2 separate regions of the Homo sapiens genome follow, and region 2 is linked to region 1. Evidence: fine-mapped expression QTL. A gene starts in region 1. The other region holds a variant in brackets. All regions are shown on one strand. Distances are from middle to middle.

The links. PIP is the estimated chance that this variant, and not a neighbour inherited with it, causes the effect.
Region 2: its variant is fine-mapped to the expression of TMEM19 in blood mononuclear cells (TOPMed, PIP above 0.99). The same link has a PIP of 0.9 or more in T cells.

Annotation. Positions count from the first base shown.
Region 1 is chr12:71,684,700-71,687,622 of GRCh38, reverse strand. It overlaps TMEM19 (transmembrane protein 19), which reads right to left and starts at 1,541. Exons shown (of 6, transcript NM_018279.4): 1 at 813-1,541. The coding sequence starts at 942. It overlaps LOC124902965 (a long non-coding RNA gene), which reads left to right and starts at 1,559. Exons shown (of 2, transcript XR_007063367.1): 1 at 1,559-1,701. RefSeq lists silencers at 994-1,209, 1,200-1,269.
Region 2 is chr12:71,717,374-71,720,296 of GRCh38, reverse strand. LOC107984530 (a long non-coding RNA gene) reads right to left here. Exons shown (of 3, transcript XR_001749202.1): 2 at 56-174. Among named protein-coding and RNA genes, the nearest start is that of TMEM19, 33 kb to the right of the region's middle. The variant T/C (reference allele first, on the strand shown) is at 1,477.

The sequences.
Region 1 (2,923 bases):
TTTAATTCTTATTATTTTTACAGAACATGTGAAACTGATAAACTACATTACTACTTTTTTTTTTTTGAGACGGATTCTCGCTCTGTGGCCCAGGCTGGAGTGCAGTGGCTCAATCTTGGTTCACTGCAACCTCCGCCTCCAGGGTTCAAGTGATTCTCCTGCCTCCATCTCCCAAGTAGCTGGGATTACAGCTTTTTTCTAGTTTTAGTAGAGCTGGGGTTTCACCGTGTTGGCCAGGCTGGTCTTGAACTCCCGACCTCAGGTTATTTGCCCGCCTCGGCCTCCCAAAGTGCTGGGATAACAGGCGTGAGCCACCGCGCCTGGCCCATTACTAATATTCTTATTCAAAATTAAAAGCATCACTGTAATTGCTTTACAAAGCTATATTCGCCTCACTTATCTTTTACCAAGACAGATGGAATAGTTACATAAAATATAAAGACATTTTGAAATAGGTGTAACTAGTCCAGAAGTGGTGGCCTGTATTGCCAGCACTTTGGGAGACACAGGTGGGAGGATCACTTGAGCCTAGGGGTTTGAGACCAGCCTAGCAACACAGAGGGACCCCTATCTTATACAAAATAAAAATTAAAAAAAAAAAGAAATAGGTATAACTCGAATTATCACAACAAGCATTTATTAAAGGCATTGTTTATACTATCATGTTAGTAAGTTAAATCAGGCTATGGAAGTTAAGTAAACACAACCATTCATAACCATTCAGAGGATATGAGTTTTGGATTTCACAATGGTATGGTTTTAATTTCCTCTGACTAGATTACAGAGAAACAACTTAGAACACTCAGACTTACCATAATAGGTGCTTGCAGTCATTGATATAATCCAGAAAGCTAACGAAATGCAAATGATCAGGCTCAGTATAACTATATTAGTTATCATCTTTATATATCTTTTGCATATATTGTCGTTAAGATCTGTCATGGAAAATAAGGATATGAGCTCCTGCGGGAAAGAATATTTAGCGTTTCGGAGAGAAAGTCATTTACGATGTGAGCAAGACACTTGTTCAGAGGCAAACATAAATCCCAACATATTCCACCGACCAAACAAGCATAAAAATCACAAAAATTCAAACTCCTTCCGGAAACTCCTACTGGCGGAGAGCTCCAATTCATATGGGCGTGGTCAACGCCTCACCGCAAAAGCAGAGCGCAACCCGGCGGACGGTGAGGGCCGGTCGCCGGCTGCCGGCCGCTTCAGCGCCTCACGCCGGAGCCCACGGGGAAAAGAGAAAGCCGAGGCAGCCAATCCGCGGTCCCGGCGCTGGCGAGTTCCACCCACCTCCCGTCGCAACCTTCTCACCCGCGGGCCGGGTAGGCCAGCGGCTGCAAAGGGGCAGCTAGGGCACCCGAACTTGGGCAAGTCTGGGAAGCACGCCCGACGCGGCTGAACGCAGTCACGTCCCGACAGCTGCGCAAGCCGCCCTAGGGTCAGGTCCAGCCGGCCAAGGCCGAGACCCCAGGAGCAAAGCCCGCGCCTCCCGGCGCCCCCGCCTCTAGCGCCTCGCCCGCTGTGGGCATGCGCCGCAGCCGCTTAGGGGGATGTCGCCTAGCTCACGTGGGCAGGCACTGCTGGCATCCTGGCCGGCTGCGTTTGCACTGCTTCTCCAAAACCACATTATAGGTACTAAACAACATTGTTTAGTACCTATAATGTGCTAGACTCCTGGCTGCTAGCGAGGTAAAGTTAAACATAGTTTCTATTACTGAGCTCTCGTAATTATTGTCATAACACCACTTAGATTGTGGAAATATCTGTCCTCACACCCCTTATATTAAAGGTGTGTGCATTTAGAAAGCAAAACGTCTTGTTAGCATTAAAAATCTGAATCGTGGCTGATTTCTTTTCTTTTCTTTTTTTTTTTTTCGAGACAGTGTCTCTCTCTGCCGCCCAGGCTGGAGTGCAGTGGCACGATCTCTGCTCACTGCAACCACCGCCTCCCAGGTTCTAAGCGATTCTCCTGCTCCAGCCTCCGGAGTAGCTGGGATTACAGGCGCCACAACCACGCCCGGCTAATTTTTATATTTTTAGTAGAGACGGGGTTTTGCCATGTTGGCCCGGCTGGTCTCGAACTCTTGACCTCAGGGGATCCACCCACCTCGGCCTCCCAAAGTGCTGGGTTTAATGGCGTGAGCTACAGCGCCCGGCCTGATTTCATGTTTTATGTGAAATTAACTTGTTTGCCTGGGTTAACAGTAATTAACTGATAATTACATAATATTTATCAATTTTTTCAGTTAATTGCTGACAGTGTAAGAAGAGGAGCCAAATCCATTTCAGACACAGTATGCAATTGTGTTTTAAGCCCCAAGAGTAGTTACTTTAAAAAAGCTCACATTATTTTAAATTTCAAAATACATGCCAAGACAGCTTGTCATTTTCTTTGGTAAGACATCTAATTAAGTAGTTAACTAAGAATCAAATCTGTGAAGTAGGACTAAATAGTAGTGGGCTTCCTGTACTAGATAATATACATATATGGTCTTTATGCTGAAATGTATTATGTGCCTACTTTATTTTTGTCTTAGTCTGTTCTGCATAGGTAAATGTTTGGATTATTTCACCAAGCTGACTGGCCAGTATCAATGTTACCAGACTACTGGGTAAAATTATTAATAATGAAAGCTAATGTTTTGTGGTTTGCACAGTCGCATTGTTTTTGTCTCTGCTTAGACAAAATTATAAACTGGTCTTTTTTTTTTTTTTCTTTTTTTTGCCTTGCTTCACCACAGTCACAGAGTGACCCTCTCTGATTAGTTGGTGTTCGATAGGAAAATCATAGCCTAGTTGTGAATGTCAAGCTATCTCCCAACACTGTGGTGTAGCTGTGTCAGGTCAGTCCCTGGATGTCAGGGATGATTTTCTCATGACTATTAGATCTGGCTAAAAAATGCATATTAAA
Region 2 (2,923 bases), 33 kb before region 1:
TCTCAACCTTGGCTCCACATATGAATCACTGAGAAGCATTTAGAAATCCTCCTACCTTATCTCAGACAAGTTAGATCAAGTCTCTAAAATTAGGGTTTCAAGGAAGTAGGAGCTTTCAAAACTCCCCAGGTGATTCCACTTTGAGGCCAACATTGAGAACAACTGCTTTAATACCTGTGCCAAAAAAAAAAAAAAAAAATCAGTGTTTGCCTGTTGATCTACTCGCGTATTAGTCATTGCTGAATTTCCCCAGACAGATTTTTTGGCTTTGCAGAATGAAGATCTTAAAGAGAATGAGGACTTCAGAATGTGGCTACATCTCAGATTCAAGGAGATTTGTAAAAGCTGTCAGTGATTTCCCATTGCCGTAAGATAGAGTCCTAAATTCTGACAAGGCAAAGCTCATCGGTCTAGTCTCTTTCTGCCTGATGCTCCCACCTCCTTGTCTCACTCTCACTATGGCTCACTAGGGTCCAGATAAAAGAGCCACTTTTCCCTTACTTTAACATGCCAAGCTCTTTCCTGCCTCAGGGCTTTTCTGCTGGTTGTGTCCTGTTCCACCCTTGACCTGGCCATTGACCATTATTGCATAGACACAATCTACTAAAACTCACACAAGGAAAAAGAGATAATCGGAACAGGGCTTTCTATTTTAAAAATTGAATCAACAATTAATAACCTTCCAAACAGAAATTACCAGGCTTAGATGGTTTCATTGGTGAAGTCTACCAAAGATTTAAGGAACAAGATACCAGTTCTTTACAAACTGTTACAGAAAACAGAAACAGAGGGAACACTTTCTAACTCACTACTTTATAAGGTCAGCATTTCCCTAATGCCTAATTATAAGAAAGAAAAACTGCAGACCCATATCTCTCATGAACATAGTTTCTGTAGGTCATGAATTCAGGAGCAGCTTTGTTGGGTGTTTCTGGCTTGAAGTCCCTCATGAGGATGCAGTTAACATTTTGGCCAGGCTGGAAGCTTGACAATGACTGGAGATCTATTTTACACAGTGCTGGTTGTTGGCAAGAGACCTCAGTTTCTCCCCATATGGGCCTCTCTGCTGATTGCTTTAGTGCCCCCATGACACGGTGACTGGCCTTCCCCAATATGAGTGATCCCAGGGAAAGCAGGTGGAAGCGGCAATGTCTTTTATGGCCTAGCCTCAGAGGTCACACACCGTCATTTCATCTATGTCCTATTGGTAACACAGACCAATATTTAGTCCCCCATTCAATATGGGAGAGGACTAAAAAGGAGCCATCCTGGAGGTTGTGGATGACATCATACAATAGAATACATTTCAGCAATGGGAAGCCATGAATTACTTATACATGCCACCATGCACAGAAAGCTCTGATATTATAGTGATAAAAGCCAGACACAACAGAGTACATCCTACATAATTCCATTTGTATGTTGTTCTAGAACAGGCAAAACTATGGTCTTGCCTCTGAAAAGAGGAGGGATTGA[T/C]AGGAAATGACACAAGGGAATTTCTGGGATGATGGAAATGTTCTATATCTTGACAGGGGAGTGCTTCACATAGGCATATCATTTGTCAAAGTTGCACAGTTAAAAATATGTGTGTATTTCAATGTGGAAACATTCACCTCAGAAAAATAGGACCATAAAAAAAATCTAGCTGGGACTGGGAATGAGTGGTGGTCTAGATAAACAAGAATGGCAGCATGCCCATAATGGTTGAAGTTGGTATATTATATTAATCTGTTTGTATATGTTTAAACATTCCAAATGAAAAGCAAAAAAAAACCCAAAACAAAACCCAAACTGTTTTGTGTAATAAGCTTCTTATTCCTTTGTGTAAGAGTGTATCTTCCCTTTTGTTTTACCATGCTAATTAAAAGAGCATTTATATCTTGTGAAGGCTGCATTATTAATTACACACCAACAGGGTCAAGTCACCTTAACAATCTTAATTATAATTGAGAAGCCAAAAGTGGCTTCTTAACCCACTTCTGATAGGTGGGTAGTGAAAAAATCCTCCGACAGCCCAACTCTCCAAAATGTCATATTACTTACGTAAAAACTGGTGAAATCCATTCAGCTCTTAGGGAAAAATGGGACAGCAATCATGGCACAAAGATGGCTCAGAGACCATGTGTCCTCTCAAGTCAGTTGACTTTTCCCCCTTTCTACCAGAGGGAAGCTGAGCAGGCAACACAGTGATCTAGACATTCAGAGAGGATCTCCTACTTTTTTGTAATACCTCCTGTTTCTTCCCTTAAGGGCTCTAGGGGCATTTGGAGGTCGGGGTGGAGGTGAAAATTAAATGAGAGGAAAGGAATTTGTAAACTGGCACACAGGTTAGTTTACCATTCCTGAATCACTCCAGGATCTAATTCTAAATGCAGAAGTACATATACATTCTCACAGACGCCAGTGAACTTTCTGCCAGTACAAAACCAAGAGCCCTCTAAAAAGAATGTGCAGAACAATGTGGTGATATTAGAAAGCACAGAGTATATCCTGGAACCGGTAATAGTCTAGATGGCCTGAATACATGAGGCACGTTAGGAGAATAAATATTGAAAAGGCTAAAGAAGCATAGTGAGCCTTGTGCCTATTAGTATGCCTTATCTTATTAGGAGAAAAATGACCCCAAAAGTTTAAGAATGAGGTTTGATTAATATAGCTTGGTGTAAAAAAATTATCCTTCTTACTTTTTGCGAAATGAATTACACAAACACTTTATGCATATCAGATTGGGACTCATCTTTTTTCACAGAATAGTAACAACAATAAATGTAAAAGGAACAGAAGTACCCTGCAGTTGTATGACACTTTAGTCATGTTGAATAGTATAGTAATGGTAAAACATATTGGCTACTTACTGTCTACTAGAAACTGTACTAGGTACCTCAGGTGACTTAACTGCCTTGATCCTCCCAACTACTTCATG